Linked DNA regions of Homo sapiens. The protein of the gene in region 1 purifies or fractionates together with the protein of each later gene. This does not show direct contact. Each region holds a gene or a part of one and is shown in the gene's direction. Other genes may lie near its edges.

Evidence for each region. Proteins that work in one complex are often made in the same cells at the same time.
Region 2: the proteins of SCAMP5 (region 1) and VAMP4 purify together in Homo sapiens (co-immunoprecipitation; one study listed by IntAct). This does not show direct contact.
Region 3: the proteins of SCAMP5 (region 1) and SNAP23 purify together in Homo sapiens (co-immunoprecipitation; one study listed by IntAct). This does not show direct contact.

The regions. Positions count from the first base shown.
Region 1 is NC_000015.10:75,012,563-75,016,062, forward strand, and holds part of SCAMP5 (secretory carrier-associated membrane protein 5), read left to right. Parts: intron 1-114; coding exon 115-243; intron 244-3,500. UniProt on the Homo sapiens protein: Required for the calcium-dependent exocytosis of signal sequence-containing cytokines such as CCL5. Probably acts in cooperation with the SNARE machinery.
Region 2 is NC_000001.11:171,707,566-171,711,065, reverse strand, and holds part of VAMP4 (vesicle-associated membrane protein 4), read left to right. Parts: intron 1-251; coding exon 252-352; intron 353-1,265; coding exon of another isoform or gene 1,266-1,321; coding exon 1,322-1,401; intron 1,402-3,500. UniProt on the Homo sapiens protein: Involved in the pathway that functions to remove an inhibitor (probably synaptotagmin-4) of calcium-triggered exocytosis during the maturation of secretory granules.
Region 3 is NC_000015.10:42,526,634-42,530,095, forward strand, and holds part of SNAP23 (synaptosomal-associated protein 23), read left to right. Parts: intron 1-1,628; coding exon 1,629-1,787; exon of another isoform or gene 1,788-1,838; coding exon of another isoform or gene 1,839-1,868; intron 1,869-3,041; coding exon 3,042-3,186; intron 3,187-3,462. UniProt on the Homo sapiens protein: Essential component of the high affinity receptor for the general membrane fusion machinery and an important regulator of transport vesicle docking and fusion.

The DNA.
Region 1 (3,500 bases):
AGTGGCCGGTGGCCACAGGGGCCAATGGGGCAGCACAGCCAGGGGAAGGATGGGCGTCTTGGATTGTCGGGTGGAAGACTGGAGGTGATGTTGTGCAATGTGTCTCATCCACAGAGAAAGTGAACAACTTCCCACCATTGCCCAAATTCATCCCGCTGAAGCCATGTTTCTACCAAGACTTCGAGGCAGATATTCCTCCCCAGCATGTCAGCATGACCAAGCGCCTCTACTACCTCTGGATGTGTGAGTGCCATGGGATGGGGGTGGGCCAGGGTGGCTGGAGGAGGCAGGAAGACTGGGCGTGCTGGGCAGCGGGGTGGGGTGCCCACAGGCCTGACTGTCCTTCAGTCCCACTTGTGGCATATGCATGGACCATAAGTCTTCCCCTGCCAGGCTCCCAGAGGCTTCTTCCATGGGCCACCTCCCCGACTGGGCCTCAGTTTCCCTCAACCTCCCCCATCTAGGCCTCTCTTCCCTTCCTTCCCCTCCACCCTCCTTTCACAGAGCATCTGGACAGGGGTCCCTCTCTGCAGTGTAATCCCTGTCTTCTTGCTTCCCCTTTCCCTTCCACTGGAGTAACTTTCCAGGGAACCTCTGGGGACTGTCAGGACCTCAGGATTCTGGATTTGGAGAGGAATCCTTCCCTCAAAGCCTTATTTGTCTTGCTTTCTCTGGAAGATTGCTCAAAGAGAGGAGGATTCAGCTGGGAGTTGGGAGCTGTGGGATCAAGTTTGCCTGGTCACTGTGCTTGCCAAGCAGCAGGTTCCTCATTTGTAGGAAGAAAGTATTGGCTTGGCGATTGCTGTGGTTCCATGCAGCTCTGTGTTGGGTGGTCTATACCTGTAAGAGTCTAATGTCAGGCACAGTGGTTCACACCTGTGATCCCGGCACTTTGGGAGGCTGAGCCAGGAGGATCACTTGAGGTAAGGAGTTTAAGACCAGCCTAGGCAACACAGCAAGACCCCTGTCTCTACAGAAAATAAAAAAATTAGGCCTGTGTGGTGGCTCACACTTGTAGTCCCAGCTATTCAGGAGGCCAAGGCAGGAGGATCCAATGAGCCTAGGAGTTTGAGACCAGTATGGGCAACATAGCAATACCCCATCTCTTTAAAAAAACTAGCTGGGAATAGTGGCACATGCCTGTAGTCCTAGCTACTCAGGGGACTAAGGTGGGAGGATCACTTGAGCCCAGGAGTTCAAGGCTGCAGTGAGCTATGATCATGCTACTGCACTCCACCCTGGGTGACAGAGTAAGAGCCTGCCTCTAAAAAAATAATTAAATAATCTAGAATTCTTTATTTAGAAAACCTTAGCATCAATGTTCTAAGGTTTTAAGGCTGAGAGTGTAAAGGCCTCATTTCTGGTGATCTGTAGCAGGGGGTGGGAAAGGTGTCTTCTTGGGGGGATGGGACTTGGCTGTGCTGAGGCTAGTTAGAAGGTACCTCTTAGGCATGTGAGGGGGAGGCAAGCTGGCTATCCTGTGCTGGGTGTGAGCCCCAGGATCCCAAGATACCCGCAATGTAACTGCAGTTGGGTTCTGCTATATGTGACACTGCCCTGAGTGAGGCCTGCACTTAGCTGCCTACCTGGGCAGATGCTTGCATGTGCCGACAAGGTGGTAAAATATACTGTCTTTGCAGCAGGTCCCTCATGGCATGGTAGGAAGAGGATGGGGCAGACAGACTCAGTTTCAAGGCCTGGCTTGGCCTTTGAGTGAAGAAGGGATCTCCCACCATGTAACCTGAGAGAAGGGGGGATGGGACAGGTGTGGGTAAGTCTGTAGATGTTGGGAAGCAAATGAAGAAGTTACCTCTGATGGCTTCCATTTTTTCCATCAAATATGATGTAGTGTGGAGAGTGGGCTCACAACGAGGCCATGTTTGTCGACGGATAGTGAGGACACTCTCCAAAGAAACCCGGCCCCTAAGATTTCTGGGCCACACACAAGGTTCATTTGACATTGGCTGATGTGAATTTACAGTCTTCCTCATGGGGTCCCCTTTTTTCTTAGCAACATTCAGCTCAGGTACAGATGAGAATTATGTTCATCTAGGGTGAGTGTGGCCAGAAGGCAGGGCAGGGGAGGGAATAAGAAAATGAGTAATGAATTATGGAATCTAAGCTGGATAAGGAGAAGAGTGAAGACAGAAAGAAGCTGATGGCTAGAGAGAGAGAGGGGCTGAGCTCATGGGTATCCATTCCAGAGAGGAAGCAGAATAATTGCAGCAGAGGTGTTTGAGCAAGGGAGCTGGGGCAGGTTGGACTGGGGAGAGATGTGAACCAATATAATAGGTTAGTGTCTTTTCTATATAAAGAGCAAATAAAATCAGTTTTAACACCAAGCCTCCAGGAGATTTTGGGGCAATGAACAGGGATAGAGGAAATACAGCTGAAATGTACAGGAAGAAATGCCCACCCATGAGGGGCCCTGAGATGGGTGACACGGTGGTCAGGCCAGGCTTGTAGGTCACTGTGTCTGACCTGGGCTCTGGGAACTCAACTTCTGGGAACATCTCATCCAGAAGCTGGATTTAAGGGCTATAAATATCTCCTTAAGTCCTCACTAGGCACCCGCAGGTGCTTTACTCCCAAGGAAATGTATATAACCCTTGAGGTGCTTAAGGGTTCTATTCAGAAGACAGGACCACAGATGCCTGGCTGTTTGAGGCCACGGTTGAGCCCTCCTTCCTTTGTTTATTCAGCAGGTCTTTGTGGACTTAGCTTTGTTTTCAAGGAAGGGAGTGCCCTGATGTTAGATAATGATGTGCTGCACAGACCCGCATGTGTGTTAGTACCAGCATCACTTTTATCTGTAAATCTTTGAGGTCCCTGCTGGCCGTGACTCAGTGACACTGTGCCTCCTAGTTCAGCTAGATGAGGTGGGGACAGAGGGGGGGGGGCCTGGGTCCTGTTCTTGGGGAACTTTTAGTCTGGTTGATGGGCTGGGATTTATATCTGGGGAACCTTGAGAGCAGCCCAGGTCTGTAGAAGGTCAGAGGGATGGGAGATGATGAGGTTGCAGTAGCAAAGGAAGACTTCTTCAAGGAGCTGGCATGAGTGTTATCTAAGAAATAGATTAGATAGCTGGGCACTGTGACTCACACCTATAATCCGGCACTGTGGGAGGCCAAGGCGGGTGGATCACCTGAGGTCAGGAGTTCGAGACCAGCCTGGCCAACTTGGCGAAAAACCATCTCTGCTAAAAATACAAAAATTAGCTGGGCGTGATGGCAGGCACCTGTAATCCCAGCTACTCAGGAGGCTGAAGCAGGAGAATCGCTTGAACCTGAGAAGTGGAGGTTGCAGTGAGCTGAGATCGCGCCACTGCACTCCAGCCTGGGCGACAGAGTGAAATTCCATCTCAAAAAAAAAAAAAAAAAAAAAGAAATAGATTAGATAAAGACTGAGATTCCAGCCGCCAATGCCTGCCCCATTTAAGTGCAAGGTAGATGGCACAATGGCTAGAAGAGATGTTTCCACAAGGCCTTTTATTTTTCCCT
Region 2 (3,500 bases), on another chromosome or scaffold:
TTACAAGTCAGAAGCAGGGCTAAAAGTAAGCTATCTTTAAATATTACTTTAATTTATATCATATTGTCTTTCATTATCTGAGTACTGAAGCCCACAAATGGAAGAACATTGCTACAAAGTCTTAAATTTAAATTTTATAGTTGAATAATTCTCTGAGAATTTGCTATTCTTTATTATGTCTAATGAAAGTTTTAAAAATTGTAAGCATTCTCAAAAGAAGGATAAATAATTGTGTATCTTTTTTAAACTAGTGTTCAGAATCAAGTGGATGAAGTTATTGATGTCATGCAAGAAAATATTACAAAGGTAATTGAGAGAGGGGAGAGACTAGATGAACTACAGGACAAATCAGGTACAGATCTTCATGTATTTCTTGATATTACTAATCTGTTTGCTAGTTTTTGTCTTCTACTTGTCTAGCCAACGTTTACAAATCTTGGCTTAGGAAATTGGCATTTGGTTCTTAAGTATATGATTTTAATGGTTTAATTTTAACTCCTTTACTTTGAGTCATCTTATTGTTTCATTATTTTTTAATTGTTCAGTGGAGAATGAAGAATTTAAAATTTCATTGTTGAAGAGTGAAGAGTAGAGCTGTTTTTTCTTTTGCCCTGTGATATTGATGAACTTTGTGTTTCTCATGATCTCAGGGCCTAAAGACCTACTCACTTTTCAACACTTGTTTCAAACTTATCTGCTATTTTTATTTTATGTTTTATTTGGTAACTTAGTCACCTTTCTTTACTTTCAGTCATTACACCTATAACCTATACCTATACCTATACCTATACCTGGCACGTACTTGCCACTCAAATATTGTTTGGTGAATGGCTGAATACCTGATTAATCTTTGACAGACTTTAGAAAAAAAAAAAACACCTCGCTTAGTCACATTTAAAATGTATATTGTTTTCCTTTAAAATCAGTCACTTTTGATATCTTCTAAGAAGCTAACTTCTCAACATGTAATTTTTTTTCTAGAGGTGTGCCAAGTATTTGAATTTTTAAAGAGTATTTTTCTTACTAGATTTCCTAAGTTTATTTATAAGCATTAAGGCCCTAAAAAGACTTTTCTTAATTTTATAATAAAAAAGAAGTGAGCAAACTGATCTGCAAGCTGTTTTTTGCTTTTTGTTTTCATTTTTTTAATAATGTAGAATGCCAGAGTTTGTGGGTGGAAAAAAGGGAGAATGCTGTTTTCATGCTTAAAAGGGAATAAATTTGCAGAAGTAGAAATTAATATTTTCTTATCTTTGTGTGACTAGATAAAAGAATCCTGTTATGTCGTTTAATCCTTCTCTCCATCCTCTATGTGATATAGAAAGCTTATCGGATAATGCAACAGCTTTTAGCAACAGATCCAAACAACTTCGAAGGCAAATGTGGTGGCGTGGATGCAAAGTAAGTAAATCAGAAGCTACTGGATAGACTGGTCAGCATCTGAAGTGGTATTCAAACACATGAAGAAAAAAGGGCCTCTAGAGCATAACCTCTGTGAGAACAGGGCCTATAACTGTCCTGAGACATGGTAGAAATTCAGTAAATACTTGTTAACTTAATTGCTTTTGGGATAGGGATAACTAAATAAATCAGTATGCCTAAAAGGATGTTTTCATAGATTTTTTTAATGAAAGTAATCCACATTTTATTAATATTTGACTACCTCTAAACTTATTAACTTAAAACAAATATACATTTTTTCTTGAAATTTACTATTAATACTTTTTTGGAGCAACCTCTATAGCATTATGTAGAGATATCAAAAGTAGGAGCTAGAGAAAAATATGACTTTCGGTTGAAAGGGTAAAAAATAAAAGCTTACATATCCGAATCTGTTAAGACAAATGGAGTTAAGAAAAAACTCCACTTCCCTCATTATTCCAGAAAAATAAAAAGTAAAAGAAATTTTTACCATTTTTAACAAGGTAAACATTGGAATCACTACATACTAATATATACTCCTGCAAAACATTGTATAGAAATACATTTACTTCTTAAATCCACTGTGGCTACTAATCATTAACAGAAAATGTTTTTCACGTTATATGAGCAAATCTTTTTTTTTTTTCTCCTGATTCTAGTTATAATTTTTGGCTTTGTTTAAAATTTAGACATGAACTCACTGTTTTTAGTCTCTCATTTTCAATTTCAAGTTTAGCAATAACTCTCCTTTTTTTTTTTTTTTTTTTCTTTGAGATAGAGTTTTGCTCTTGTTGTCCAGGCTGATCTCGGCTCACCACAATATCACCGCAACCTCTGCCTCCAGGGTTCAAGCGATTCTTCTGCCTCAGCCTCCTGAGTAGCTGGAATTACAGACATGTGCCACCATGCCCAGCTAATTTTGTTTTTTTTGTTTTTTTTTTTTTTAGTAGAGACGGGGTTTCTCCATGTTGGTCAGGCTGGTCTTGAACTCCTGACCTCAGGTGATCCACCTGCCTTGGCCTCCCAAAGTGCTGGGATTACAGGCATGAGCCACTGCACCAGCCAGCAATAACTTTCTAAACCTGACTTAGCCATATGCTGAGGATTTTTTCCAAGAGTTACCTTGGATTTATTTATTTTTATTTGTCTACCTATTGAATCGTCCTACTTTCAGAAGTGGAACTGAGGGAAGAAATATGTTTCATTTCTCCCCTTGTTCAGAATTTAAATTTTCTATTCTATTTTAAGTTATTTATTCTTTAAAGAATAAATTTATTTTCTTTAAAGTCTTTTTTTTTTTTTTTTTGTGGCACTCTTGCTGTGTCTCTGAGGCTGGAGTGCAGTGGCACAATCTTGGCTCACTGCAACCTCTGCCTCCTAGGTTCAAGTGATTCTCATGCCTCAGCCTCCTAAGTAGCCCAGGTTCAAGCGATTCTCCTGCCTTAGTCTCCCGAGTAGCTGGAATTACAGGCATGCACCACCACACCTGGCTAATTTTTGTATTTTTAGTAGAGACGGGGTTTCACTATGTTGGCCAGGCTGGTCTTGAACTTCTGGCCTCGAGCAATCTGCCCACCTCAGCCTCCCAAAGTGCTGGATTACAGGCATGAGCCACCACACTTTGCCTAAAGCTTCTATATCTATAGAAATTTTCTATTCTGTGGGCTAATTTAGAAAAACAAAAAGTCCATGAGCCACTCACCCCTTCTCTCTCCCAAACTCATGTACCCTATTCATGTATCCACAAAAAGATGGTCATAATGTACATTTTGCCTAGCTTTTTTTTTAACCATTGCTAAAAATGTTTGCTTTGTACTTTATGGGGTTTGGGTCAGAGGAATAGCGTGCTTTTAAGGAGGAAAAACATTGAGTCATATTTTTAAATAGTCATCACCTTGAGAACCTCTGGGGACCATGAATAGCATCGACCATGTAATGAAAATCATTGTTCCATAATGTAACAAACACCATTTACAGTAGCGAGTATTCTTCATTTATTATTTTCTAATGCTTAGCTTCCTTCAGTTTTACTGTGCCCCATTAATACTTCATTGTGCTACTGTTCATCTGGGGCAGCC
Region 3 (3,462 bases), about 32 Mb from region 1:
TAAAATGTAGAATAAATCAGAGATCAATATTTGAGCAACATACTATTTCGTTTTTGTTTATAGAAAAGTGAAAACTAAAATTGAATGAAAGCTTGACTTTAGCCAAATAATCAAGAAAAGTTTTGTGTCACTTTTCCGTAACAGCCATTTTTTTTTCCCTGTAATAGCCACTTTTTCTTTCTTTTTAAGACACTTAGACTTATGATTTTTTTTTTTTTTTGAGATGGAGTGTCTCGCTCTGTTGCCCAGGCTGGAGTGCAGTGGTGTGATCTTGGCTCCTTGCAACCTCCGCCTCCTGGGTTCAAGCGATTCTCCTGCCTCAGCCTCCCCAGTAGCTGGGATTATAGGCACGTGGTGCCACACCCAGCTAATTTTTGTATTTTTAGTAGAGATGGGGTTTCACCATGTTGCCCAGGCTGGTCTTGAACTCCTGACCTCAGGTGATCCACCCACCTTGGCCTCCCAAAGTGCTGGGATTACCGGTGTGAGCTACTGTGCCCGGCCTTGATCGTTTTTTTAAAGAGGAAACTCTTAAATGAAAAACTCCTACACTACAGGATTTATGAATGACCGCTTGTGTGGTCAAGGTACTTATTTGTCCGCTGATTGTCCAATTTGGAAATTATTCATGCCTTTCTTTCCTGATGGCTGGTTTGTTTGTAAGAAACCATTGTTTAAAATTTCATGGAAAATTCTAATAAAAACTGATCAGCTGGAACTACGCTGGTTCAAATTCAGTCTTCTTATTTTAAAATTTTATTTATTTATTTAAGATTAGGTCTCACTCTGTCACCCAGGCTGGAGTGCAGTGGCACTATCATGGCTCACTGCAGCCTCGACCTTCTGGGCTCAAGCAGTCCTCCCACCTCAGCCTCTCGAGTAGCTGGGACCACAGGCGTGTGCCACCACACCCAGCTAATGTTTGTATTTTTTTATAGAGATGGCATTTTGAGGCAGGGAGCAGTGGCTCACGAGCCTGTAGTCCCAGCACTTTGGGAGGCCGAGGTGGATGGATCACTTGAGGTCAGGAGTTTGAGAGATGGGTTTTTGCTGTGTTGCCCTGGCTGATCTTAAACTCCTGAGCTCAAGCGATCCACCCGCCTTGGCCTCCCAAAGTGCTGGGAGTACAGGCGTGAGCCACTGCACCCAGCATCAGCCTTCTTATTCTGTCATCCCTTGTCAACCTCTGAGATGCCTTCAAGGAACCTCTTAAGGTATCCCAGAACACCTTTTCTAAGGGACCTTTTTTTAAGTAATGTGCATTAACCTCTTTTCTAGATAGTGCTGGATACACTAGGAAGAGAAAAGCAAAACGATAGTGCCAGAGGCTAAGGGAACCTGAAAAATCAAATAGTTGCCTTTTGCTACTTGCTAACAGCCTAGTGAAGATTTGGTAGAAGTAGTATTTGGACCTTTTTAAAATTTTTTTTAGTGTCAATGGGTTTACATAATTCATCTATTTCCTATTCCATATTGCCATGGAGCATAGTGTAGATCATCTAGACTTAGCTGTATGCAGCTTTTCTACTAGAGTTATTAGTGTCATCCTCAAGGTAACAGGCACTAATAATTAGAACTCTCCGTCTTCTTTTTTTTGGTATCTCCCTACACTCCTGACTCTTATATAGAACAAAGAACTTTGAGTCTGGCAAGGCTTATAAGACAACATGGGGAGATGGTGGAGAAAACTCACCTTGCAATGTAGTATCTAAACAGCCAGGCCCGGTGACAAATGGTCAGCTTCAGCAACCAACAACGGGAGCAGCCAGTGGTGGATACATTAAACGGTATGCCAACTCCTCCTGATATTCCTGTACCTTTCTTAATGAATGGTTCACTTAGGAGATGAGTTTAGCAGTACATGACCCCTAATAAAACAAATAAAAATTGTATTTATTCCATTTTTAAAATGCATTTAAAAATCTGCCCACTGACAAAATGTGGGTTTTTTTTATTTGTTGTTTTGTTTTGAGACAGAGTCTTGCTGTGTTGCCCAGGCTGGAGTGCAGTGGCGTGATCTCAGCTCACTGCAACCTCTGCCTCCCAGGTTCAAGTTATTCTCCTGCCTCAGCCTTCCGAGTAGCTGGGACTACAGGTGTGCGCCACCACGCCCAGCTAATTTTTGTATTTTTAGTAGAGACAGGGTTTCACCATGTTGACCAGGCTGGTCTTGGACTCCTGACCTCAGGTGATCCACCTGCCTCGGCCTCCCAAAGTGCTGGGATTACAGGCATAAGCTACCACACCTGGCCAGACAAAATGTTGACTGTGGTGGTTGACCTTGGGTGATGGAATTAACTTTTCTTTATACTTTTCAGTACTTTCCAAATTATTGAACTAGACATATTTTACTTTTATATATAGAAAAAAATAGGTTTTAAAATGTGTCATCTAGAACAAGGGTCAGCTAGATTCCTGTAAGAAGATCTGTAACGAGCCAGAGAGTTAATATTTCAGACTTTTCAGGCCATACAGTCCCTTGCAATTACTCAACTCTGTTGTAGGGTTAAAGCAGGCATAAACAATATGTAAACAAATGAGCACAGCTGTGTTTGAATAACACTTGATTTACAAAATCATATGGTGGCCAGATTTGGTCCTTGGGCCGTAGTTTTCCAACCTCTCTCTTAGGGCAGTGCTTCTTTAGATAGACTTAACTGTGCATTAGAACCACTTGAGGGGCTTATTAAACCGTAGGTTTCTGGGATGCACTTACAGTTTCTGATTGAGTAGGTCTGGAATGGAGTGTGAGAATTAGCATTCTCATGTCTAACAGCTTCCCAGGTGATGCTGGGAATTAAGCTTTGAGAAACACTGTTTCAGAGTTTCTTTCTTTTCTTACATGGCTTTAAGATACTGTGCTCTCTTTGATGAGTCTCCCAGTTTTTATTATAGAATGTTTCCCAGGAATGGTAACCTATATTCTTTTGGATCTTATACTTGCTGAGAGTCATTTTGGTTACTTACTTTTGTGAAAAGTAAATCCAGACTTTTATTTAAATTCAACAAAACCTATGGAATTAACTGTCTTCTTGTGATAGCATAACTAATGATGCCAGAGAAGATGAAATGGAAGAGAACCTGACTCAAGTGGGCAGTATCCTGGGAAATCTAAAAGACATGGCCCTGAACATAGGCAATGAGATTGATGCTCAAAATCCACAAATAAAACGAATCACAGACAAGGTAAAAGCTTTTTATTGCCACAAGAAAATGAGACACCCAGTTCAGTGTTTCAGTAATAGACATCTGTGCTAGATACTGTGGGGGACACGGTAGAATAAGCTCCTGTCCTCATAGGTCTTAATTCTGATGAGGTGGTGGTTCTAACACATAAAACAAGAGCCAAGTCCTCCCTGTCATGGTAGTTGGTGCATTTTGAAACCAGAGTTTTGGAATATAGTAGTTTTACTTAAACCTTCACACATGAAGCTTAGTATCTACTTTAGCTTTTGAGCGTGT